Linked DNA regions of Homo sapiens. The protein of the gene in region 7 purifies or fractionates together with the protein of the main gene of each other region. This does not show direct contact. Each region holds a gene or a part of one and is shown on either strand. Other genes may lie near its edges.

What was found.
Region 1: the proteins of RELL1 (region 7) and KDSR purify together in Homo sapiens (affinity purification with mass spectrometry; 2 studies listed by BioGRID and IntAct, with this or other methods). This does not show direct contact.
Region 2: the proteins of RELL1 (region 7) and XPNPEP3 purify together in Homo sapiens (affinity purification with mass spectrometry; one large-scale study listed by BioGRID and IntAct). This does not show direct contact.
Region 3: the proteins of RELL1 (region 7) and OXSR1 purify together in Homo sapiens (affinity purification with mass spectrometry; 2 studies listed by BioGRID and IntAct, with this or other methods). This does not show direct contact.
Region 4: the proteins of RELL1 (region 7) and MGAT1 purify together in Homo sapiens (affinity purification with mass spectrometry; 2 studies listed by BioGRID and IntAct, with this or other methods). This does not show direct contact.
Region 5: the proteins of RELL1 (region 7) and GPR156 purify together in Homo sapiens (co-immunoprecipitation; one large-scale study listed by IntAct). This does not show direct contact.
Region 6: the proteins of RELL1 (region 7) and ZDHHC11 purify together in Homo sapiens (co-immunoprecipitation; one large-scale study listed by IntAct). This does not show direct contact.

The regions. Positions count from the first base shown.
Region 1 is NC_000018.10:63,364,407-63,368,647, forward strand, and holds the start of KDSR (3-ketodihydrosphingosine reductase), read right to left. Parts: upstream 2,801-4,241; 5' UTR 2,713-2,800; coding exon 2,605-2,712; intron 2,595-2,604; exon of another isoform or gene 1,844-2,594; intron 724-1,843; exon of another isoform or gene 1-723.
Region 2 is NC_000022.11:40,881,148-40,884,647, reverse strand, and holds part of XPNPEP3 (xaa-Pro aminopeptidase 3), read right to left. Parts: intron 2,879-3,500; coding exon 2,471-2,878; intron 1-2,470. UniProt on the Homo sapiens protein: Catalyzes the removal of a penultimate prolyl residue from the N-termini of peptides, such as Leu-Pro-Ala. Also shows low activity towards peptides with Ala or Ser at the P1 position.
Region 3 is NC_000003.12:38,172,037-38,175,536, reverse strand, and holds part of OXSR1 (serine/threonine-protein kinase OSR1), read right to left. Parts: intron 1-3,500. UniProt on the Homo sapiens protein: Effector serine/threonine-protein kinase component of the WNK-SPAK/OSR1 kinase cascade, which is involved in various processes, such as ion transport, response to hypertonic stress and blood pressure.
Region 4 is NC_000005.10:180,800,007-180,804,115, forward strand, and holds the start of MGAT1 (alpha-1,3-mannosyl-glycoprotein 2-beta-N-acetylglucosaminyltransferase), read right to left. Parts: upstream 2,801-4,109; 5' UTR 2,674-2,800; exon of another isoform or gene 2,670-2,673; intron 1-2,669. UniProt on the Homo sapiens protein: Initiates complex N-linked carbohydrate formation. Essential for the conversion of high-mannose to hybrid and complex N-glycans.
Region 5 is NC_000003.12:120,167,601-120,170,222, forward strand, and holds part of GPR156 (probable G-protein coupled receptor 156), read right to left. Parts: intron 2,214-2,622; exon of another isoform or gene 1,961-2,213; intron 785-1,960; coding exon 1-784. UniProt on the Homo sapiens protein: Orphan G-protein coupled receptor involved in the regulation of hair cell orientation in mechanosensory organs of the inner ear.
Region 6 is NC_000005.10:833,987-837,486, forward strand, and holds part of ZDHHC11 (palmitoyltransferase ZDHHC11), read right to left. Parts: exon of another isoform or gene 3,495-3,500; coding exon 3,379-3,494; intron 1-3,378. UniProt on the Homo sapiens protein: Endoplasmic reticulum-localized palmitoyltransferase that could catalyze the addition of palmitate onto various protein substrates and be involved in a variety of cellular processes.
Region 7 is NC_000004.12:37,679,877-37,683,376, forward strand, and holds part of RELL1 (RELT-like protein 1 precursor), read right to left. Parts: intron 1-3,500. UniProt on the Homo sapiens protein: Induces activation of MAPK14/p38 cascade, when overexpressed. Induces apoptosis, when overexpressed.

The DNA.
Region 1 (4,241 bases), on a different chromosome or scaffold from region 7:
TTATATATTTCACTGAATAAGTGAACAATGCAACATTATTTTTCTTTTTTTTTTTTTGAGACAGTCTTGCTCAGTCACCCAGGCTGGAGTGCAGTGGCACGATCTCAGCTCACTGCAACCTCCGCCTCCCAGGTTCAAGCGATTCTCTTGTCTCAGACACCCAAGTAGTGGGGATTACAGGCGTGCGCCAGCACGCCCAACTAATTTTTGTATTTTTAGTAGAGATGGGGTTTCACCATGTTGGCCAGGCTGGTCTCGAACTCCTGACCTCAAGTTATGCACTCTCCTTGACCTCCCAAAGTGCTGGGATTATAGGAGTGAGCCACTGTACCCGGCCATATCGTTCTAGTCACTGTCCCTATGCAAATTACATAATATTGCATAGTATTGTCTCCTGTTTTTAAAAAATTATATTGTAATGTCTTATTTGTCAAAAAACGAAAAGGTTTCACAATACTTCATCAAATAGCTGCATCAAAACTTCAACGTTTCCCTATAACCAGACATTTAGATTTTTCCTAATATTCACTGTTATACATAAATCATGCTGGGAGGAAGATCTCTGACTCCATGTTAGGATTTTAACATCATTGGGAAGTGTCTCCTACGCAAATGCACCTACCTCTATGGGACTCATAGGCATCCCTTACTTCTTTTTAGCTTCAACCTGCCACCACTGAAGAGATTTATTTGGTCGGTAATCAGCCAGTTATCAGCAGATTACTGTAAAAATATAGCTGTTGTTGGCCGGGCGCGATGGCTCGCGCCTGTAATCCCAGCACTTTCGGAGGCTGAGGTGGGTGATTTTCTGCTTTTTTCCTGCAATTTTACTACCGTAACTAGATAGAAAACACTAGTATATAAAATTGTTTTAAAAATGAAACAATTGTTATAAGTTTGTTCTTAATTATGTATGGGCAGACAGTTTAACCATCAGCTCCCTCTCCCAACAATACCACAGTCAACTCCTAACAAATCTCAAGAACAATTACACTTTTCACTCTTCTTATGACATTAAAAAAGAAGACAGATGGTGACACCATGTGAACTATTCATGTCATTCTCACATTACTTAGAGTGTGAAATAATAATCCTGCGTATTAAAGCGGGATGGTAAAAATAAATTCTTCTTGGTCCACCTGAACAGACACAGCATTTATTATCTCACCTATGACCTGCCGCGGGATGGGGCTGGAAGGACTGGAGTCAAGGCTCAGTGAAACTGTCTTACAAATAAGGAATTCCAATTTTCATTCTGCGTTTAGCTTTAGTTTTTGCAAAGTTATGCTCTATAAACTCAAGCTCTGAAAGGATCCAAGGTTTAAAGCCACGCTTTTGAGGCAGCAGTTCTCTTGCGGATGTAAAACTTTCAGAATTTAGAGTGTCAAGTTTTGCCTTTCTCTTATTTATTTTTTGTAATGAATCCACACTCTTTCCCCATTAGGAACAGGAGGTGTTGGAAAAAGCTAATAGCTTTACAAAGGAGAAATTAAACAGATACATTTTCTCATTCACAAACCCTTGTACAGATTTAAAGCATACTAAGAAAAACGACCATCTTATTTTATACCAGCTCAGCGGGGAGGCTCGGATCTCCGGTGCAGAGATAGGACAGGAAGAGGTGTGCGGCCAATTTTGTAACCAACCCTCCTTACTCCTAACTCCTCGCCTCACTGTGCCTCGGGTTTGGGAGATCCAAACGAGAATGCTCGTGAGAAAGCCACTGCAAACGGGAAAGTGCTGGGCGCAGGCAAGGAGGCATTCTCTCTGTTTAAGAAAGGTGCCACATTTGCAGAACAGGGATCGCTGAATATGCGAGCTTCCGCCAAGAAATAAATCACACCTATCCACCTCTCCTTCATTCCTCGCACACAAGCCTTGTCGTTTAGCTCATCCTTCCCACTAGAAAACAGCAAAGGATTGCATTGGAGCAGCAATCAGCAGATGCCACGCTGAGCTCAGAGACAAGCAGTGTAGACGGGACAGGCGTCCCAATACCGCTAAGCCACCACCGCCAGCCCGCTGGGTTCTGAGCAGTTTCCCCAGGTGAGTCACTTCCTGGAATCCTCTGGCAGCGGCTCTTCCCGTCACTCGCACAGGCCATCTTCCAGTTCCGAGCTGCCTCGGCGGGTCCCGGCGGCTGGGACCCCACTTCCCCGCTGTCTGCCCCCGCCCGGGGCCGCGCGCCGCACCCTGCACACCACCGACCGCTGTGTCCTTGGCAAAGTTTCTCAGCCTCTCTGTGCCTCAGTTGACTCATCGGAAAAACTGAGGACAAAACATCCACATCCCAGGGATGTTGCATGGATTCACGAGCAGCCACAGAACCCCTGGGGCCCCGGGAACCCTGCGGCCGGCGGGGTCCCCCGTCGCACGCTCTCCGGCCCTAGGAGGAGCCCGAGGCTGCGGAGGGCGGGTCCGCGAGGCCGGGTGCCGGGGCCGGGGGAAAAGCGCCGGGGTGGACGGCGGCAGGTGACCTTCCCCATTTGGCCATGCCTTCCTGGGGACCGCGGCCTGGAAAAAGGGACGTAGGCTACGCGGCCTCGGCGGCGGAAAGGCCGCGCGGGCCGGTAAGTCGGGGGGCAGCAACAGGAGGCCACTCACCACCACATGCGCCCCGGGCAGGGCGAGGGGCTTGGGGCTGATGAGCGGAGACACCATGTACAGCAGCAGCACGAAGGCCACGAGGAAGGCGGCAGCCAGCAGCAGCATCGCTCCGCGGGGCCAGGGGCCCGGAGCGGCCGGGCGGGGGCCGCCGGGCAAGGCGCGCAGGGCTGGGCTGCGGCGAGGCGAGAATCACGCGCGGCGGGCGGGCGCCTGGAGTGTTTGGGTTTGCGGGCCGGGGCGGGCCGCGGCGGAGGGGAAGAGGAGGAGCCGGCGCGCGCGCCACCCAGGCGGGGCGGTGCTTCCAGGGGGCGAGTAGGCCGCCACCGCCACCGCCACCGCCACCACTGCCAGAATCGCCTCTCGGGGGTCGCCGGGTGTCTCCCACTCCCCCGGCCTCGGGACGGGGCCCGCAGTCCGCAGCCTCTCCCGTGGAAACCGGGCCTCCCGTCCCTGTGCGTCGCGAGCGGGCTCCGGACAGCGCCAGATGCGAGCGCGCCGGGAAGGGCTGCGAAGACTCGCTCTTCGGGAGCTCGAATGGCTTCTTAGGACCCCGCAGGGCGGGTTTCCAGGCCTGCCACGGCCTCCAGTGTGGGCGTGACGAGCGCTCCTCCCTGGAGTTCAGCCCTCGGCTTGGGACTGCCCGCTGGGTTGCTCGGAGGCCCCGGAGCATCGGAAAGGGCGGCTGGAGGCTCCCGGAGCGGGCTCAGCCTGGGAGCCCAGCGACTACGCTCTGAAATCCCGGGCTCCATTCCATATTTTTTGGCGTTTTTAGAAGATGGTCACGGCCCACTTTCGCTTTTCAGAGGACCGGAAAGCCTTAACAGGGAGTTTTGAGGAATCACTAAGGTAATTCAATTTCATTGAGTTCAGAGTTCATCTTTACCAAGCAGGTTCAAAACAAATAAATAACGCAAACAACTCAGCTTTATTAAGGTCTCATTCACGTACTATACCATACAATTCCCGATTTAACGTGCGTAATAGGCCGGGCGAGGTAGCTCGCGCCTGTAATCCCCGACCTTTGGGAGGCTGAGGCGGGCGGATCTCTTCAGGTCTGGAGTTCGAGACCAGCCTGGCCATGATGGTGAAACCCCCGTCTCTACTAAAAATACAAAAAATCACCCGGGCATGGTGGCGTATGCTTGTAATCCCAGCTACCCTGGAGGCTGAGGCAGGAGAATCGCTTGAACCCGGGAGGCAGAGATTGCGGTGAGATCGCGCCACTGCACTCCAGCCTGGGTGACAGATCAAGACTCCGTCTCAAAAATAAATAAATAAATAAAGCTTATAATAAATTGTCTTTAATATAGTCACAGTTGTAGACCCATCACTACCATAAATTTTAGAACATTTTTGTCACAACCCCCCAAAATCCTATACTCATTGGCAGTCACGACCCATTTCCTCCCAAGCCCCGCCCAAGCCTAAGCAATCCCTCATGTTTCTGTCTCTATAATCTTGCCTATTCGGGATATTTCACATAAATGGAATCATATAATATGTAGCCTTTTTCATCCTATCTTTCACTTACTGTAATGTTTTCAAGGTTCATCCATGATATGAAGTACTACATGTTAATACTTCATTTATTTTTATTGCCAAATAATATCCCATTGTATGACTATACGACATTT
Region 2 (3,500 bases), on a different chromosome or scaffold from region 7:
ATAAATATGATTTTAGCCAGGCACGGTGGCTCACGCCTGTAATCCCAGCACCCTGGGAGGCTGAGGGGGGTGGATCACCTGAGGTCAGGAGTTCGAGACCAGCCTGACTAACATGGTAAAACCTTGTCTCTACTAAAAAAAAACAGAAAAATTCCCCGGGCATGGTGGCGCGTGCCTGTAACCCCAGCTACACGGGAGGCTGAGGCAGGAGAATTACTTGAACCTGGGAGGCAGGAGTTGCAGTGAGCCGAGATGGTGCCATTGCACTCCAGCCTGGGCAAGAGCGAAATTCTGTTTCAAAAAAAAAAAAAAAGGAATGGTGACCGAGAAGTACTTTTGAGAAATTTATTTTACATGAGATTGTAACTATACTGAATTAATAAAACTTAGACAGTAGAACATGACAAGTAGCAACTAATGTAAGAAAAAAGCTAGAAAGAAAATGATTCTATGCCCCACATTTATGTGGATTTTGAAGACATAAGAAAGTTCAATGAATTGAACAGGCTAATTATCTATAAAATGGAAAACATTTCTATAAATAAAAAGAATTTAATCAAATGTATTAGAACTTACATATTCAAATGAGTATTTTCTTCCAAAAGAGGCTTTACAGGAAACAGTCTAATATATTTTATGATTGTGAAAAACATTTTTGGAATTCTCTTTTAGAAGCTAACTTCAGATATGATTTGTAACCCATGTAAGAAAAATCAAACAAAAACTTTATAATTATACATTATCTTGACCTAAAATCAGTATTTTTAAACTTGAGCATCTATCTTATTTTCCAAATAAGATACTTCAAAAAATAAAATACTTCCCAGAGCTAAAGTTTTTTAAGAATTACTAAAGATAGTTTATAATGTGGTGTAGGTTCTGAAAAAATTCCCAGAAGAAAAATCTCAAAACATTCGGATTGATTAAAATTTCACCAGAATAACTGTAGAGAAAGTAATTTCTTTGAGGGACAAGAACTCAACTATGGCCAGGCACGGTGCCTCACACCTGTAATCCCAGCACTTCAGGAGGCTGAGGTGGGAGGCTCACTTGAGGCCAGGAGTTCAAAACCAGCCTAGGCAACAAAGTGAAACTCCATCTCTACAAAAAAATAAAAAAAAATTAGCCAGACATAGTGGTGTGCCCAGGTAGTCCCAGTATTCTGGAGGCTGAGGCAGGAAGACTGCTTGAGCTTTGGGGTTCGAGGTTGCAGTGAGCCATGAGTGTGCCACTATACCTACATCCCAACCTGGGTGACAGAGTGAGACCCTGCCTAAAAAAAAACAAAAAAAGAACTCAACTGTATATGAACCACAAAAGATCTGTTAAAATGCAGATTCTGATTCAGTAGATAGGGGATGGAGGCCTGAGATTTTAATTTCTATTACATATTATGCATTTTTAATTTTAATATGCATTACCAGGTGATTCTGATGCTGTGATGCATGGATCGTTCTTGGAGAACAGTACCTCCTTTTGAAGAGCTGGCAAGAGCACTAAGATAAGAAGTAGTTGTCAAATATCAAGAAGCTGGTCAGTAATCTTGAAGAGTGGTCCATGCCCATCCTGTCCTTAATTTATTTATTTTTTGGAGATGGGGTCTCACTACGTTGTGCAGTCTGGACCTGAACTCCTGGCCTCAAGCGATCCTTCTACCTCAGCCTCTCCAGTAGCTGGACTACAGACGTACACCACTGTGTCTGGCTTATCCTTTGCTTTAAAAGAAAATTCTCTGTGAGATTTCAAACTAGGATAGGTAACAGTCTCCATTAATGAATAATCCAGTGAACATGGAGTTTTTTTTTAATTGAAATGTTCTAAAATTCATTGTGGTGATGGTTGCACAATTCTATGACTATACCAAAAACTCTTAAATTATATACTTTCATTTTATTATTTTTTTTGAGATGGAGTCTTGCTCTGTCGCCTAGGCTGGAGTGCAGTGGCGGGATCTTAGCTCACTGGCTCACTGTAACCTCCTGCAAATGAATAAATGAATCTTTTTTTTTTTTTAAGACAGTCTTGCTTTGTTGCCTAGGCTGGAATGCAGTGGCATGATCTCGGATCACTGCAACCTCCACCTCCCGGGCTCAAGTGATTCTCCTGCCTGAGCCACCTGAGTAGCTGGGATTACAGGCGCCTGCGACCATGCCTGGCTAATTTTTCTATTTTTAGTAGAGACGGGGTTTCGCCATGTTGGCCAGGTTGGTCTTGAACTCCTGGCCACAAGGAACCTGTCTGCCTCGGCCTCCCAAAGTGCTGGGATTACGGGCGTGAGCCAATGCACCAGGCATAAATGAAATCTTTAAAGAAGCTCAATCTTCTGAAAAAGACTTTACATTTCTTTCATGGTGCTCATGGTCTTTTCATGGTGGTGCTACGATAACAAAATTAAGGACTTGTCTAAACAGGCAAGAAAGGTTTTAATCCCAATCTGGTTTGTAATGTGACTTCTGCTCCCATTTGTTACCTTTCATTTTTGGTAGAAGATGTTGAAATTCTTCTAGCGTATAGGCTTCGTCTACTCCAGTTAGAGCTATTGCTCCATCAGTGCCAGATCGCGGACCATCCCAAAGTTCTCGACTGGGATCTCGCCGAGGCACAAAAAGTATGGCTTTGTGTGATGGTAATTGTTTGCCAGGGAGGCTCTGAAGGACAAGAATGCTATCAGGCTCTTGGAATCCACATAGGTACAGGAAATTGTTGTCTTGGTGGAAAGTATAGGGAATATCGTTGCTCATGTAGTATGTAGGGTTGGAGAGCACAACCACTGTCTGGTCTGTCCCACTCTGCCCTTGAGCTTCCTTCTGGATCAGAGACATTAGTTTGTGTCTGCGAAGTGCATATTCCACCTGAGATAGTCCTGGAGTTACCTCCCCTAGAAATGACAAATAAAAGGGATGCTTTACATTTCTGCAGTGCCAAAGTACTTAAGGTAGTTTAATATTAGATGGAAATACTCAAGTCCAATTGTTCAATTTATGCCAAATCTCCTCACAGCACATGGAGAATTAAGGAGATAACCAGGTTTCAAACTTGTATTCCACTGCAAAAATTTGGAAGAAATGATAGTTGAATGTGGCCCCGCCTGAAATCTGGAATCATGGACCCCTTAGATCTCTTCCAGGTCTTTGGCTCATTCTTTTACTCACTCAGTTATATTCATTGAATATAATTTTTTTTTTTTTTTTGAGACAGAGTTTCGCTCTTGTTGCCCAGGCTGGAGTGCAGTGGCATGATCTCGGCTCACTGAAACCTCTGCCTCTCAGGCTCAAGCAATTCTCCCACTTCAGCCTCCCGACTAGCTGAGGTGGTTCACGCCTGAAATCCCAGCACTTTGGGAGGCCAAGGCAGGCAGATCACCTGAGGTCAGGAGTTCAAGACCAGCCCGGCCAACATGGTAAAACCTCATCTCTACTAAAAAAAACACAAAAATTAGCCATGTGTGGTGGTGCATGCCTGTAATCCCAGCTACTCGGGAGCCTGAGGCAGGAGAATCG
Region 3 (3,500 bases), on a different chromosome or scaffold from region 7:
TTGAGCTGACAAGTTTGAGACCAGCCTGGCCAACACAGTAAAACCCCGTCTCTACAAAAAAATACAAAAATTAGCCGGGTGTGGTGGCACACGCCTGTAGTCCCAGCTACTTGGGAGGCTAAGGTGGGAGGATGGCTTGAACCTGGGAGGCAGAGGTGAGCCATGATCATACTGCTGCACTCCAGCCTGGGCAACAGAGCGAGACCCCACCTCAAAAATAAATTTTTTAAAAAAGAGAGAGATAATGTAAAAGTAGATATTCCTGTCAGGAAAAAATGAATTAAATGAATCAAATCAAATGAACACATTTTCTCCTAAATTGTGCCCAGCCATCACTATAATAGGCTTATAGTCTAAAGATTTTAAAGTATATTTTAGTAAGGTTTTGCATTCACTGAAGAAAAGCACTAGCCCAGGCTGTTTTGAAAGATGACTAAAGTATTGTCACCTGAACCACACAAAACATAAGAATTTACAATTTTGTTAACCCCTTTTCTAAATAAGGTCTCTTGTCAGAGTCATGTTGAAAATTAACTGGCAAAACATCTGTAAGAATAGTCATCATCATAAAAATCATGCTATTCTCTCCATACAAAGATGAAAATAAAGACACTGCCATATGCTTCAAGTAAGTATTCAAGCAGCCTGATGGTTTTGCAATGAATCATCACTCGCTCTCCTGTTCACTCTGGTGATCTCCCATCTGAGCGGATGGCAACTCCATTCTTCCAGATGCTCTAGCCAAAAATCTTGGAATCATCTTATCTTCCCTTTCTCTCACATCTAATCCAACAGCAAATCCTCCTAACTTCAAAAAATATGCTATATCCAGAATCTGACCACTTCTCACCATCTCCACTACTACTTCTCTCCCCTGGATAACCTCCTTCCACCCTTGTGCCCTTATAAAACTATTCTTCATATTGCAGCCTGAGGTGTTTGTTTGTTTGTTTTTGAGACAGTGTCTCATTCTGTCACCCAGGCTGGAGTGCAGTGGCGCCATCTCGGCTCACTGCAACCTCTGTCACTCGGGTTCAAGCGATTCTCATGCCTCAACCTCCCGAGTAGCTGGGATTACAGACATGCACCACCAAACCCAGCTAATTTTTGTATTTTTAGTAGAGATGGGGTTTCACCGTGTTGGCCAGGCTGGTCTCAAACTCCTGGCCTCATGTGATCCACCTGCCTCCGCCTCCCAAAGTGCTGGGATTACAGGTGAGGCACCTCGCCCAGCCTGCAGCCTGAGTTTTAAAACGAAAGTCAGGTCACGTTAAATCTCTGTTCAAAACCCTGCAATGATTTTCAGTCTTACTCAAAGCAAAAGCCAAGTTCCTACAACAACTTACAACCTGACAATCAGGACCAAGCATCCATACCACCTTACCTTTCTAACCTCTTCACCTATCTGTCTCTTCACCTTCTGATTTACTCTGCTCTAGCTGCCCTCAAACCTCCTTAGCATTCCTTAATCACATTAGCATGCTTCTGCTTCAGAACCTTTGTTCTTGTTGTCCTCTGCTTGGAACAAACTTCCTGCAGATAACCACATCATTCACTTCTTCACCTTCTTCAGGTCTTTCCTCAACTGTCATCTTCTCAGTGAGGTTTTCCCTGACCTAAAACTGAAACCCCACCTCCACCCCTAGCAGTCCCTAACCCCTTTCCCTGCTTTTTCTTCTTTAGAGTTTCTAGATTATAAACTCTGTGAAAGCAGGCATTTTTTGTGTTTGCTTCATTGTTTTATCTCCAGCATCCAGAACAGTGCCTGGCACATAACAGGAGTTCAAGAAATATTTGCTGAATGAATTAATCACATAGTGGGGTATATTTTCAAGGAAAAAAAATCTTGTTTGGGGCAGAACACACACAGAAATAGCCCAGTCTTCATGGGTGTTATTTCATCGTTACCATCATGTACATTAACATTCACTGAGCATCCATTCTGTGTGCCAAGTCTATGCTGAGCACTTTCTTTACTTACATTTCTTCTTTTCATCTAATCATTACAATAATTCCATGTGATAGGTATTCATGGTCTTACAAGACAATGTAAGTAAAGCAATGTAATTAAGGTAAAACTTAGGTCATACAGTTAGTTAGGCAGAGTAGGGCCTAGAAATAAGAACTACCTGAGTTTCAACATTATGCTCTTAATCAGTAGGCAACTACCTCTTCAGATTAAAGCTAACATTTATTAACTGATTACTATGCATCAGGTTAAATTATTTACTTGCAATACCCTATTTGACTATTTTCATTTTAAAAAAAAATGAGGCCAATATTCTTAGTTGCTTAGCAAACATACAATTTCCCCTTCTTTAGTAAGATAATCCTGACCTATTTTGTTTGAAGTAATAATGTGTCCAGCTAAAGCTTCATTTTGCAGTCTGCCTTGCAAATGACCAAATTATACAGTTCTGGCCAGTAAAATAGAAGTGGAAGTCACTGAGTAAGGCATCTAGGAAAGAAAGCCTTTTAAAAGAGAACCAACTCAGCTGTCATGTGTCTTTGTCCTTTTGCCATATTCTTCTGGACAAGAACACAAGCATGAGTCTAGAGGTGGAACAACCATCTTCCAACTATGAGAAGGAGAGTCACCTGCTAAGTGTGGTCGCATGAAAAAACTAGGAGCCTGGGTGCCTGACAGCACCTAGGCTGCCACCTCCAGTCTTCTTGTTATATAAGGGGGAAAAAGGATTTTATTAAGCCACTATTATTTCCATTTTCCCCACATGCAGAGAAATGTAAGCCTTATTTGATACAACACTATGAGGTTGTTGGCCCAATGCTGGCCTCATAGAAAATGTCACCTTAGCTGAGTCTCCCAATCAATGGAAAAATACACTATTAAGCACCACTCTATTGAAAGCACGAAGTCCTTCACATTTATGGAGGCGCTAAAGGTAAGGCCCTGGAATCTGTATTTGAAAACCACAACTTTAAACTCAAAATGTGTGGCTAGTAAACAATCAATGAAAATAAAAAGAAGGGAAAGTCAAGAATAGAAATATATTGCACTGCCTTCAAAGTGTCAAAGCTAGGTGAATCACACCTTAAACCTAGTATTAAGTTTTCAATTTTCTAGTCTGAGGTAAATAGTAAATACTTATTGAGACTTTTCAAGATGCAGGGCAATAAAACCTAACTGGCACAGCCCTCTCTGCCATCATATTGTATTATTAGCAATATCATGGTGATGGTCCTTACAGTTATACTACGATGTCCAACATAAATCCCTAAATCCATCTAAACCTGAATGAGGCCTGGACTAAGAAAAAAAAAGATGCGAAAATAAAATAAATGCAATAATGTTCCACTAAGCATTAAAAACAGATTCAAACTATTTTAAGTGTCACAAGCTTTCACATCACATAGTATTTCATATTTCATGGCAATACCAAAAATTGGGAAATATGAGGACAAGGGGAAGGGTAAAAAAAAGTCAGAGATAATAACAACTATCATTTTATACAAGCTAAACACTTCCCACAAATAATTAC
Region 4 (4,109 bases), on a different chromosome or scaffold from region 7:
TTATCCCAGCCCCAGCTGACTGCAATGGCGTGAAAGACCACAAGCAAGAACCACATAGCTGAGATGTTAATAAAATGATTCTGTTGTTGTAAGCCACTAAGTTCTGGGGTGACTCATTATGCAGCCATCAGTACCTGAAGCAATGAGAGAAACAGACTCTAGATAATCTTGACAAGCAGGGCAAGTGCCCTCCCTGCCCTCTGTGCTCAGCTCCAAGTCCAAACACTGAGGCCCTGTCTCCACTCATGTCTCCTTCCTTAGTAGGTATCTACTCCTGCATAATAAATTACCTCGATATTTAGTGGCTTAAAACAATAGTTATCACTTACTCCTCACAGTTTCTATTGGTCAGAAATGTGGACAGTGCAGCACAGAGGAGATGACGTGTCTCTGCTCCACTATGCCTGAGGCCTTGCTGAAAGACTCAAAAGCTGAGGGCCAGATGCCCCTAGAGGCTCTCACATTCTCTCACATGTCTGTAGGATGATGTTGGCAGCAGCTGAGACCTTATCAGCAGGAGTGCTCACTAGAACCCCTCTATGTGGCCTGGAAATGTCCTGGAAGTGGTGGCTGCATTCCAAAGGTGAGTGTTCCAAGAAAGCGGGCAAGCCAGGTGAAAGTGTATCCTGTTCCTGATTCAGCCTTGGATCAGGTCTGTCTTACTCACTGGTCAAGGGAACCACAAGTCCCTATTGACATGCAAGGGGAGAGAATCATAAACCCCACCACTAGGTGGGAAGTGGACAATGTCAAACTATAACTACATGTGGAAGGGGATACTTACGGGTGAGGCCCTTGAGGGAAAATACAATCTGCTACACCTTCCTTTTTAAATAGAACAACTGCCCTTAATCCTGACCTGAGTTCCTAATGATGTCATTTATGAGACTGGCATGCAAGGCACAGACTCAAAACTGGCTTTGACTTTCTAGAGTTTTCACAACTCCTTTAGGGAGGTGACACAGCCAATCCACACCACCAGGTACAAAGACATCTGCACCATGGTGGGAGATGAGAAGTGAGTCTTTTCAGTACAAAACCCTTCAGCTAAAACCGAGGTGGCTCTGGGTAGGCGCCACCTGCCCCTATGGGGCTCACTCAGTTTCTGAAGCATTTGAAGGACTGCCTAGGAGCTGTGAGATCCTTTCTAACACTCTGATACCATGGTGTTCTCCAGCCTATTTCCTTTATCTGGCAAAAAATGTTTCTTAAATAGCAAGTGAACACCAGATAGTCAACTTCCAATCATGAGCAATAAGCGAGAAGTTATATTTAGCTGTAAAATTAAGTACAGAAGTGGAAGAAATGGTAACAGATTTTCCCTTCTATCTCTGCTTTGCTTAAAGTTAAAAAGCACTACGTAAAAATTCCAGAAAATATAGACATGTCACAGGTAATGGAACTCTAACTGAACTGCTTTCATGTTCGTTCTTAGACCTTGGCTGGACTCCTGTATCATGTACCAGGCCCATAATTTCAGGACGGAAAAAAAAGAAAGGTAGTCAGAGAAGATACACTAAATAATTCAAGAGTTGAGAGAATAAGACCTAGGAGGGAAGGGATGCAGGTTATTCATCCTGGAAAAGAAGAGCTAAATACAAGTGCCACAAAAGGCATGAGGCCTGGGATTCAGGCGATCCAGCCAGCAAGCCAGGCAACTTTGGACAAGTCACTTGACCCACTTGTACCTTAGTTCTCTCATCTATAAGGTGACAGGGTTGATTTGGTTCATCACAAGGTCCCACTGCCTGGATACTGACGACAGTGACAATTTCCCTACTGCCCCGAACAGTAATGAGTTTCCCTTGTTAACACAGGCCACTGAGGTCAGGCATACCGCAGTGCTTCTAACAGTGAGAATGAGACACAGAAGCAGGGAAATGGGTGAGCTCAATGGTCCCCAGAATTGGGAAGGACCAGGACGCAGTGATTGCTGATGGAAGGCAGATCCTGGATGATGTGAGCACGTAAGAGCAAAGGCTACACGGCCTGAAAAAATACCGTAAATGACTGAAAATAAAGCTGGGCAACATCTCAGCCAGTGATGTTCTAAAACAAAACGGCAGACCCACTACAGCAGCAAGGGTTAACCAAAGTGAAGCTTCAGCCTTCAGGGAGCCGGCCAGCCACAGTCCCTCTACTTCAGAGTTTATCAGACGCGGGCACTGCACGTCCCGGGGCTCTCTACTCCACACACGTTAGCAAACAGGAAGAAAAGTTTTCTTGCCAACTTATTATATATATATTTCAACACTGAATCAACATTTCCTTTCTGCTGAGGAGAATCAGCCTCTATTAACTTGGGGAAAGGATGCTGGAGTGAGGTTAGGGGGGAAAGGCCACTCCCCAATCCCACCCCCTCCCTGCCCCGCACGCACGGACGCCCGGGGCCGAGTTTCACAACATCCTCCCCAGTCCGCGGAGCCCGCCCTTCCTCTAACAGCTGGAGGCCCGGGATTCCGAAAGCAGAAGGCGGAGTTCCAACCTCTCGGCTCGGGAAGGGACTAACGCGCAGCTGGCACCGGGTCGGACCGGGCCGCTCCCCAGCCAAGCCCCCTCTCGCTAGCACTCATGGGCACCGGGGCTTTGGGGCGACCCGACGTCCCTTGGGCTCCCTCTCGGCGCCCGCGAGGCCTCCCCCGGTCTGACCTCCGTCCCCGGACACCTACTCACCAGGTCCTCCCGACGTCCTGGCCCCGAACTTGGCCTGCTCCGGGGCGCAGGGAGCGAGCCCGGTGCCCAGGCGCGTCCCAAGCGCTGCCGCGGCCGCCTCGCCTTTCGACTCGCCAGCCCTTTCTGCGGCGCGCCGGGGCCGGACGGCCGGGCGGGCAACGTGGCCCTTCCCCGGCAGGCGGGGCGGGGCGGGGCGGACTGAGGGGCGTGACCGACAGCCCCGCCGCGCCCCGCCCCCCGGCCGGCGTCCGCCAGGCCCCCTCCTCCTGGCCCGCCTCCTTTCCCCGCCGCTTCTCAGTCAACCCAGGACCCAAGTTTTCCCAGGACCCCAACTTCGGGAGTCGGCTTTCCGGCTCCCTGGCGCAACCCTGAGGGTGGACGCCCGACCCCACCCCTGCCCTCGGCCCTCCAGCGCAGCTGCCCAGCCTGGAGCCGCGCCTGAAGTGGGCCCGCAGTCCAGGAAAGGCGTTCACCAAACCCTAGGCCAAGGGCTGGGAGCCAGTCCCCCCACCCCAACCCAGGGGAGGCTGAGGAGCCCGGGTGGGAGCCCCAGGGTCGCGTGGGGCAGGGACAGAACAGGAACCAGGGTGCCCGACGGGGGGCCGGGGGGAAACACCTGTGCCAAAGCAAGCCGGGGCCAGCTGTGGCTTCTTCCCTTTTGTTTTTCCTTGGTGGGTGGGGAATGAGAGCTTCAGTTCTGAGTAAAGAAAGCGAAGAGAGACCTACCAGCAGGGGAGGCCCACCAGCCCTAGGCGGGAAGGACTCGGTCACAAGCTTTGGCGGAAGCACCATGGAAAAGCCTAGAACGGGTCTGCGCCCGGCTGGTGTTTTAAAGGGGAGGAAGGTGCGGACCTGAAGAGGAGGTGGAGGTGGACCCAGGCCCACCGAGGGGAGGGAGGGACAGCTCTTCCATAGCAAATACCTGTCGCTGAGCCAGGAGTAAAGTCTGGCCGGGAGGAGGACAGACGCAGAAGACCAGGGGCTCCAGCGCACAGAGCCAGTTTCGCCAGCGATCAGGTCTGAGGCCTGGATTCCACGAGGCCGGTGCAAGCCAGGAGCCAGCCCCACTCCCTCGCCCAGCTCCCTCCGGCCTGGCCCTCTGCAGAAGCCTGATGCCCACCCAGCTGTCTCACCATGGGACCCCAGGCGGTGAGGGTGGGTAGCCGAGGACTACAGGCTGCTGGGTAGCTGACTTCCCCAAGAAGGGCTGCTGCCATGTGATCAGGACCCACGCCCCTGACATCAACCCCTCCCCCGTGTTCCAGAGCACGGAGCAGCCCGGAACTCTGCGGCCTGTGGTTACTGACTGACTGCTCACTAACTTGTTTCTACATGAAACCACGAATCGTGCAGGGTTCTAGAGAAACAAAGGGCCGCGCGCACCCGCAGGCCCCTGCGTGGAGGCGAGGACCTAAATCAAAACTGCTAAGGGGTCA
Region 5 (2,622 bases), on a different chromosome or scaffold from region 7:
TGTTTGCCCGATGCCCCACAGATGAGGGTGCAGAGCCAGGAAAGTGTGAGCGGGCCCGCTGAGCTGCCCGCCTTCTCCTCACCATGTAAGGGCTAAAGCCGAGCTCCTTGGAGAGGGGCATCTTTTGGGGGCTGAAGGCAGCACTGTTCTTCCAGGTTTGCTGATGACAAGAGGGGGCGGTGGAGAGGGAAGCCTCAGGGCCCAGGCCCAGATCTTGTAAGACCTCCTGAAGTTTCTCCCTGATTACTGAACTAACCCGTGACCGCCGCTCTGGGGGCTCCTCTGAGTTCTCCAGATGCCTCTGTCTCTGGGGATCTGAGCCGCCTCTTTCTGGTAGGAGACTCTGGCTGGGGTTCATGGGGACTTGGTCTCCTCTTTCTGGACCCAGGCTTTGCTCAGTCCATGGCTTCTGGCTACAACCTGAGTCTAAATGATCAGAAAAGTCTTTTGAGTCAGATATCTTCTCCTCCTTCCCTGGGGAGAAGCTGGAGTCCTTCCCAGGCCCCTCAAGGCTTTGTGCATATGAGGAGGGCCCTGAAGTGCACTGGGAATCCCGGGCAGCCATGCCAGGATCATTCTGAAAGTCAGAGAGGTGACCCGAAGGCCCCTGAGCAGCTGCCAGGGTGTGGACCGAGGCTACCGCCTGGACGTCCTTGTTCGGGGAAGAGGCAGGTGGGGCAGCCCCCTCTGGGAGGTCATAGGTGCACTCAGCTGACATCAGCCTCACAATCTTCTCTTTGGCGTTGTTTACTTGTTCCTGCAGGCTTTCAATCACAGCATTTTTCTGTAAAATAAAAGCAAAACCATCAACAAAAGATGCCGCCGAGGGTTCCATAGTGCCCACCATGGTGGAGAAGGTGTGGCTTTCAAAGAACCTTGGCTGAAATCTCAGTTCTTCCAGTGTATTGGCTGGTGACCTCAGGTTCTAAGGAGGTGCCTCCCTCCAGTGAAATGAGTTGATGCATGTAAAGTGCTAGCACAATAACTGACATAAACGGTGCTCAATAAAGGCCAACCATGATTTATTGTCATTATCTTGGTCTTCTCCTTACATCCCCACACTGTGCGGCATTGCTTATGAAGAGCAAGGAGGCCCAGTCTGAGTGCCTGCTGGCCACTGCAGCGCCCTCTCACCTTTCCCAGAACTGAGAGGGTCAGGCCACTCCGCAGGTATGAGCTGAATAATGTTTGGAATGGTCCCACTTGGAGTTTATCACACTTTTGCAAAAATTTAGATAAATGTGAAGCATATCTCCAGGGGATGAAGAAGTAGGAGAACAAGTATTTTGCCTCTTACTAAACAGCCTAGAAAATGGGAAGAACAAGGAGAAGGGTGGAGATTTCTGTGACAATCAAATAAGATTGGAGCTGAGAGGGGCCAAAGAGAATCTCAGGTTGGTGTTATCACCTCCCTAGGCTGGACCTCTGGGAGTGAGTGGCCAAAGCTACCATGTGGCAATATCAGCTGTTGATTTCACCTAAAGCAGGGGTCCCCAACTCCTGGGCCACGGACCAGTACTAGTCCATGGACTGTTAGGAACCAGGCCGCACAGCAGGAGGTGAGCGGTGGGTGAGGAAGCATTACCACCTGAGCTTCCATCAGATCAGCTGAGACATTAGATTCTCACAGAAGCGCAAACCCTATTGTGAACTGCACATGTGAGGGGTCTAGGCTGCACACTCCTTATGAGAAGCTAATGTCTGATGATCTGAGGTGGAACAGTTTCATCCCGAAACCATCCCCCCACCACTATCTGTGGAAAAACTGTCTTCCACGGAAGTGGTCCCTGGTGCCAAAAATGTTGGGAACCACTCACCTAAAGGAGTGCAAGCATCAGAACTATTGAAGAAGCACAAAGAAATGAAAGGACTGTTGGGCTTAAGCCCCTGCTAGCTTGATTCAGCAGCCCTAGAATGGAGCCCAGGAGACGAAGGAGCCTGGGGCAGTTCTGCTACTGACCTGCCTACTCGCTGGATGTTAGCTGGTAAACAAGTTGTGCCGGAGAGGGCTGGCAGGTGAGAGCTGCAGAGGTGTGCCTGTCCTAACTGCGAGATTGTGGGGCATGAAGTAGGAGTAGGAGTGTTGGCAGTGGGTTGCAGGGAACGACTGCAGCCCAGACATCTTTCTGTGGTGCAGCAGCTGATTCTCTAGTTCAGACTGTGTGTCCATCTCTGGAAACTTCTGATCCTCAAAGGCAGAGCAGGGAGGAGATATTCACAGGGAACGTCTGGACTTGGGGCAGATGACATGGGGTCGAGGGTTCTGGGAAGGCAATAATGTAAGCAAATGTTCTAGAAAGTGCTTGTCTGAACACCAAAATGCTACCTCTTTGTTACTATCATCTTTAGGAGCTGGGCATGAGCATTTGGACCTCCATTTATTATGCCCTAGAAACAAAAGGATGTTCCCTGTGTTAGGATAACCAATACAAATTGCCTAGTTATACCGTCCATAACAGCTAACTAGGACTACTAGTTATAGAGTGAACCTGTGGTTTCATCTCAGGTTTACATGGGAGAGTTGCCTAGAAATGATCCTTTAAGGGAGCAGTAGCTTAAGCAAAATAGTCCAATATTCTGACTAGCAACTCTCCAAGCAGATGCACTGCTCCCCTTGTAGAA
Region 6 (3,500 bases), on a different chromosome or scaffold from region 7:
GTGAGAAACTGGGAGTGGGATTCTGGTCATGTATTAGACATTTATCTTTTAAAGAAATGCCAAACTGCTTTCCAGTGTGGTGGCACTTTACACCCTCATTTAACTCCCACTAGCAAAAAAACGCAGGAGACTTGCAATTTCTCTACAACTTCACCAACCCTCGGTGGTGTCTGTCTTGTTGATGACAAGCATTCTCCTGGGTGTGTGGTAGTATCTGATTGTGGTTTTTATTTGCAGCTGCCTGATGTAGAATGATGTTGAGCATTTTTTTCCATGTGCTTATGTGGCATCCATATATCTATACATCTACATCTACCTTGGTAAGGAGTTTGTTCAAATCTTTTGCCCATTTTTTATATGTATGTATGTATTTTTATTTATTTTTGTAGAGATGCTCAGGCTGGTCTTGAACTCCTGGCCTCAAGCAATCCTCTTGCTTGGCCTCCCAAAGCACTGAGATTATAGGTGCTTCCCATTGTGTCCAGCCCTCTTGCCCATTTGAAAAACTGAGTTTTCTGTTTGTTTATGTTTTTGTTTGTTGTTTTTTTACAATTGCACTTTGAAAGCTCTTTGTGTCTTTGTGTATTCTGGACATCAGTCTAAGACTTGAAAATATTTTGTTTGCCTGTGGCTTGCACAGGAATGAACACCTGGCTTTATTGTGCATTGCTTTACTGCACTTCACAGATACTGTGTTTTTTCACAAATTGAGGGTTTGTGGTGACCCTGGTCAAGCAAGTATGTCGGCGCCATTTTCCCCGCAGTGTGTGCTCACTTCAATTGTCTGTGTAAGCAGCTTTTAGCAATAAAGCACTTTTAATTCAGACACATAGTTTTTAGACATAATGCTGTTGCACACGTCATGTAAACGTAACTTTTATAAGCACTGGGAAACCAGAAATTCATGTGACTTGTTTTACTGACATGTTTACTTTATTGTGGCTTTCTAAAACCAAACCTGCAGTATCTCTCATGTGTGCCTGTATTTTTATTTTCTTAATGGTGACTTTTGAAGAGCAAATATTTTCAATTTTGGTAAAGTCCAAACTATGATTTTTTTCTTTAATAGGCAGTGATTTTGGTGTCAGATCAAAGACAAGCTTTGTCTCACTAAAGATCACAGAGATTTCATTCTATGCTTGTTTCTAGAAGTGTTCTATGTTCAGCTTTTAAGTTTAGGTGTCAGATGGATTTGGGGCTAATTCTTCCGTGGCGAATGAAGTGATCCTGGGTAATCTTTGTACAGGTATGAAGAACTCAATCATTCTTTTTTCTTTTCCATGTGGATATCCAATTGTTCTAGTACCACTTGTTGAACTATAATTTCTCCCTATTTAATGATTTTAGTACCATTATTTAAAGTCAATTGACCATAAATGAAAGCTTTAACTTTGGACCTTTCTTCTGGTCCATTTCTCTATATCTGTCTCTGTCGGTGCCACACTGTTTTTATTACTGTAGCTTTATGTCTCTCTCTCTGTCAGCGCCACCTGTCTTTAGTGCTACAGCTTTATAGTAACATTTAAAGTCTGGTTGTGTAAGTTCTCCAATTTTATTTTTTCTCAAAATCATTTGGCTAGTACAGTAGCCTAGGTCTTTTGAATTTGCATATACATTTTAGGACCACCTTGTCATTTCTGCTAAAACAGAAGCCTGCTGGGGTTCAGCAGGGATTGTGGTAAATCTGTAGATAAGTTTTGGGGAAAATTGCCCTTTTAATAGTATTTTTTTCCAATCTATGAATGCTGTACACCTTTTCACTTAATAGAGCGTCTCTGACTTCTCTCAGTCATGGTGTGTAGCTTTCAGTGTACATATTTGCATAAGGTTTGTCAAATTTATTCTTTTTTTATTAGACTATGAAAGGAAGTTTTAAAAATATAACCCGGATTTTTCATTGCTGGTGGATAGAGATGTGCGAGCGTGTATTTTAATATGTGCCCCACATCCTTGTTAAGTGATTTAATTATCTTAACTAGGTCTTAAAACATACTTTTTAGGTTTCATTGTCTGCAAATAAACACAGTTTTATTTTGTATTCTCTGTGCCTTCATTTTCCCTGCTATGCTGGGCTGGCCAGAATGTGACTGTGATATCAGAAGTAGGAGGAAAGGGCGTCATCACCTGTGCCCAGCCTCCAAGAGAGGGTCACAAGCCTTTCACCAGTAAATGTCACGTCAGGTACACAGGGTGCTTTCCTATCATTCCTAGGTCACTGAGATTTGTTAAAAATCATGAATGGGAACTTGCTGTTAACAAACCCTTTTCTGCATTGATTGGCATGATTGCGTGGTTACCGTTCTCTATTGGACTAACGTGCTGAGCTGTAGTAATTGATTCCTAGGCCTTAAGCCACTGCTTACCCCTGGAGTGATATCACTTGGCCACAGTGCACATTCCTGCCCCGTGCTGCTCGATTTGGTTTCCCAAGGTCTTATCAGTGATCTCTGCCTGTGTTTCCTGAATGTACTGGCTTATGAATATCTGGTTTGGTGTCAGGTTGATAGTGGCATTGCTGAATGAGTTGGGAAGTGTTGCTTCCTTCTCTGTTTTCTGAAAGAGTCTGTGTGTAGGTTGTATTGTATTTTTTCTTTAAATCTTTGCTGGAATTCATGCATGAAGACTACAGGGCCTGGGATTTTTCTTCACTGGGAGATTTTAAATTAGTAGTTTAGTCTCTTGGCTGTTCTATGTCTATTTAGACTTTCTATGTCTTCTTGAGTTAGTTATAATAATTCATGTCACTTAACCGGAAAGGGAACTAACTTCCTTAAGTTAAAAATCATGTTTCAGGCCAGGTACAGTGACTCATGCTTGTAATCCCAGCACTTTCGGAGGCCAAGGCGGGCGGATCACCTGAGGCCAGAAGTTTGAGACCAGCCTGGCGTGTTAAAACCACATCTCTACTAAAAATACAAAAATTAGTCGGGCGTAGTGGCATACATCTGTGATCCCAGCTACTTGGGAGGCTGAGGTAGGCAAACTGTTTGAACCCAGGAGGTGGAGGCTACAATGAGCTGAGATTTCACCACTTCACTCCACCCTGGGCAACAGAGCGAGACTCTGTCTCAAAAAAAAAGATGCAAAAAGCACATTTCAACTTTGGAAGATGTATCGTGCAGTATAGAAATGTCCAGGAGACTCAGTTCCTTTCCTATCTTTGCACTAGGAAGTCCGTGGTGCATGACTGGTGTTTATGTTCACAAAGACACATAGACACACCCATGCACAGAGCCTCACACACAGACACACACACAGCAGAGTCCATGGGCTGCATCGGCCCTGAAGTAAAGGAGCATGGCTGAGAGGTCCCAACCACCGAGTGACCTTAGACATTGTCCCAGGCCTGGAGAAATGGAGCAGAGAGACAGGTGGTACCTGGAGAACTCCTTTGTCCATTTGCACGTATGGATCTTTCCTCACTGCTTGATGTTTTGAACTCTCTTCTTTGCGGTTATTAATGAGATACTCAAAGGTGGTCATCTTCTTGGCCTCTGGAA
Region 7 (3,500 bases):
GGGAGGCGGAGCTTGCAGTGACCCGAGATCACACCACTGCACTCCAGCCTGGGAGACAGAGAGAGACTCCATCTCAAAAAAAAAATTAAAAACCTCACATTAGTTCAAGTTAAGTTTTACAACCTACAGAGGGTATCAAAAGCCTACAAGAAAAACTTGTTTTCAGAGCTTTTTACATTTCAGAATTATCCATAAAGGATTACACACTTGCAAATGGCTCAAAAACTAGAAGAAAACAAAATCAACCTGATAGTTACCAACCATGTACAAATTAAAACAATCAAGGTACCAATTTTTGCCTAACAAATTAGCGAATATGTTTTTCAGAGAAAATAACAAGAATATGAAATTGAGTCTTTTTGGCTATTGCTGTGAGAATGTAACCTGGGATGACCTTCAGATCAACACTGATGTCATCAATTGCCTCAAAAATGTGAACATCTTTGACCCTCAAAGTGCCTTTTCAGGAACCCATTTTCTGTGGAAGTCCTCTGATATTTAGGCAAAGTTTCATGCACAGAGGCATTCATTGAAATGAGTTTTAAAACTCACTTAAAAATAATGAGCAACTGAAATCTCCCAAATAGATACATAGAAGTAAAATACAGTGAATCCATATAGTGGAACAGTAGGCAGCCCTTTTTTGGGTGTATAGGGAAATAGAGAAACATTTCTGTGTAACATAAACTGAAAAAGTCATGATACAAAGTTATATTGCATTATGAACCTATCCGAGTTAAAAATGCAATTAAAGAACCTATGCGAGTTAAGAACGCAATTACAGGCTCATGCCTGTAATCCCAGCACTTTGGGAGGCCGAGGCGGGCGGATCATGAGGTCAGAAGATCGAGACCATCCTGGCTAACACGGTGAAACACTGTCTCTACTAAAAATATAAAAACAAAATTAGCCAAGCATGGTGGTGGGCGCCTGTAGTCCCAGCTACTTGGGAGGCTGAGGCGGGAGAATGGCATGAACCCTGGAGGCGGAGCTTGCAGTGAGCTGAGATCGCGCCGCTGCACTCCAGCCTGGGTGACAGAGCAACACTCCATCTCAAAAAAAAAAAAAAAAAAAAAATGCAATTAGAGAAGACCAGAATGAAATATGCTAACAATGGCTAGTGCCTTGGAGTAATGGAATCAAGGGTGATTCTCGCTCCTTCCTCCCACAAACTTTAGATCTTTGGGGAAATTTTCCAAAAATACCTAGTGCACTGTATTTTAGCTAAAGGGAAATGAGAAAAGATGGCTTGGCTACTTAACTCCTATGCAACAGTAGCAAACTCTAATCTGAGGTGTCACTCTGGGCTTTTTAAAAATCCCTATCATTGCAAAGCTATCACCACCTCCAGAATAAAAACTGTTTAATATATGTGGTCCACATTTATTTGACAGTTTAAATGACGTAATATAAATCAAGCCTAATGCGCACTCTGGAGAAAAAATACTATATTTTTTAAAGATACACAGGATAAAAGATATATGCCACTTTGCCATTTACCCAGAACTTTCAGAGACAAGAGCTCAGTAAGACAGAGCAGCCAGTAGGACAGAGAGACAGGTGTTGGCACAATGCCCATTTTACAGGTGAGGAAATGGAGGTGGACAGAACCATATGCTGCAGGCATCAGGGTCTCCTTCTGTTTTTTTTTTTTTTTTTTTTTTTTTTTTGAGACGGAGTCTTGCTCTGTCACCCAGGCTGGAGTGCAGTGGCACGATCTCAGCTCACTGCAACCTCCGCTTCCCAGGTTCGAGTGATTCTCCTGCCTCAGCCTCCCCAGTAGCTGGGACTACAGGCATGTGCCACCACATCCAACTAATTTTTGTATTTCTAGTAGAGACGGGGTTTCACCATATTGGCCAGGCTGGTCTTGAACTCCTGACCTCGTGATCTGCCCGCCTTGGCCTCCCAAAGTGCTGCGATTACAGGCGTGAGCCACTGCACCCGGCTTCCTTCTGATTTTTGACTTCAAGTCCAAGGCCCTGACTTAAGGCTTGGTGCTCTTTCCACCATAGCATCCCATGACCTTGTTACTTACTGATTCTTTACAAATATGTTAGAATAAAAAGAATTTTCTTACTCAAAAAAATAGTTTAGTAATAATAAGCATGGACTTCAAAATCAAACAGATCTGACTCAATGGACTCCATGACAAAATCCAGCTTACACATGAGTGACTTTTTCAACTTCTCTGAGGCTCAATTTCCTCATCTACAAACACAGGAATAAAATTATGTATATAACTGACAGGAAATTAATTGTAAGAATGAAATGATCTAGGTATTTAGACTACCGCCTGCACACAAACCAGGTAATAATAAAAATTGAATTCCTTTTTCCTAAAAGAGTAAAGTGTCTACAGTGTACTAACACCAAATTCTGATTTTAGTTTTTATAAATCACACCAGAATTATTAATATACCCGCTTTCAGCAGCACACCAAATCTTTACAACCACTTAAGTGTCCGAAATTATTAGGAACCACTCAACCTAATAGTTTATACCAATGACAATTTAATTTATTCTTTTTGTCAGCTTTAAATCATTTCTCTATTGTTTCAATAAGTCATTAAACTTCAACATTAGGGCCAAAGAATCATTTTTAAAGAAACAATAAAATCTGTTGTTTGTTCACTTGGGGCTTTGGTCTCTCACATTCAAATTCAACTCTTCAAATTTCCAAATAGATTCATTTCATTTCCATTTTTAGAGGGGGTAGGGGCAGGGAATTGACAGAGACTTCTCACATTTTTCATTTCCTTTTAAAATTAAATGTAGATATGGACTCCCAAGCTCCAAGGTGTGCTTTTTCAAAACTTTCCAAACACTATATATTATGTGGATGTACAGCTTCGCAGCTACCTGGCTAAGAGAGACCCCAGAATTTAATAAAGCTTATCTTTAGTTTCTAAAAAGGAGTCAGAATGCTGGAGGGAAGCCTGCAGCCCAAGGACAATGCATTTTTCATCTCACCAGCCCCAGGACCTCTTCCACCCACTCCTTACTCGAGGGCTATGCCCACTGTCTGAGAGAGAAACTAATAAACCTGAAGGTTGAGTAACCAGAGAACTTAAGGACATTAATAAGCCAAGACGTGGAAAATCATCCCTTTGGGTGCTTGTGGTATATAGTTTCGAATGCTGCTGCTAAGAGACAAGTTTAATGAGATTCTTCTACTAGGAAGGAAGTGAAAAAGGCATTGCCACTACCCACCGTGAAGCTATCTGCCCTTCTTTTCTCTACTTGACAACTTCTGATAACCACATGCTTACAATTTTATGACGTTCTAAACTATCTTAGAATCTCAGCGAGATTGCAGAGGTTGACTCATATTCTATTTTTCCTCTGCAGAGCAGTGGGGTACAGTGGAAAGGGAATGAACTTTGGAATCAAGCAGGCTGGGTTATCCCAGATAAAGATACATATAAAGGTACACACATACACAGACACCTCCTAGTGGTTCTGCTTCTCTGAATGCTGACTGGCACAGTACCTATGTG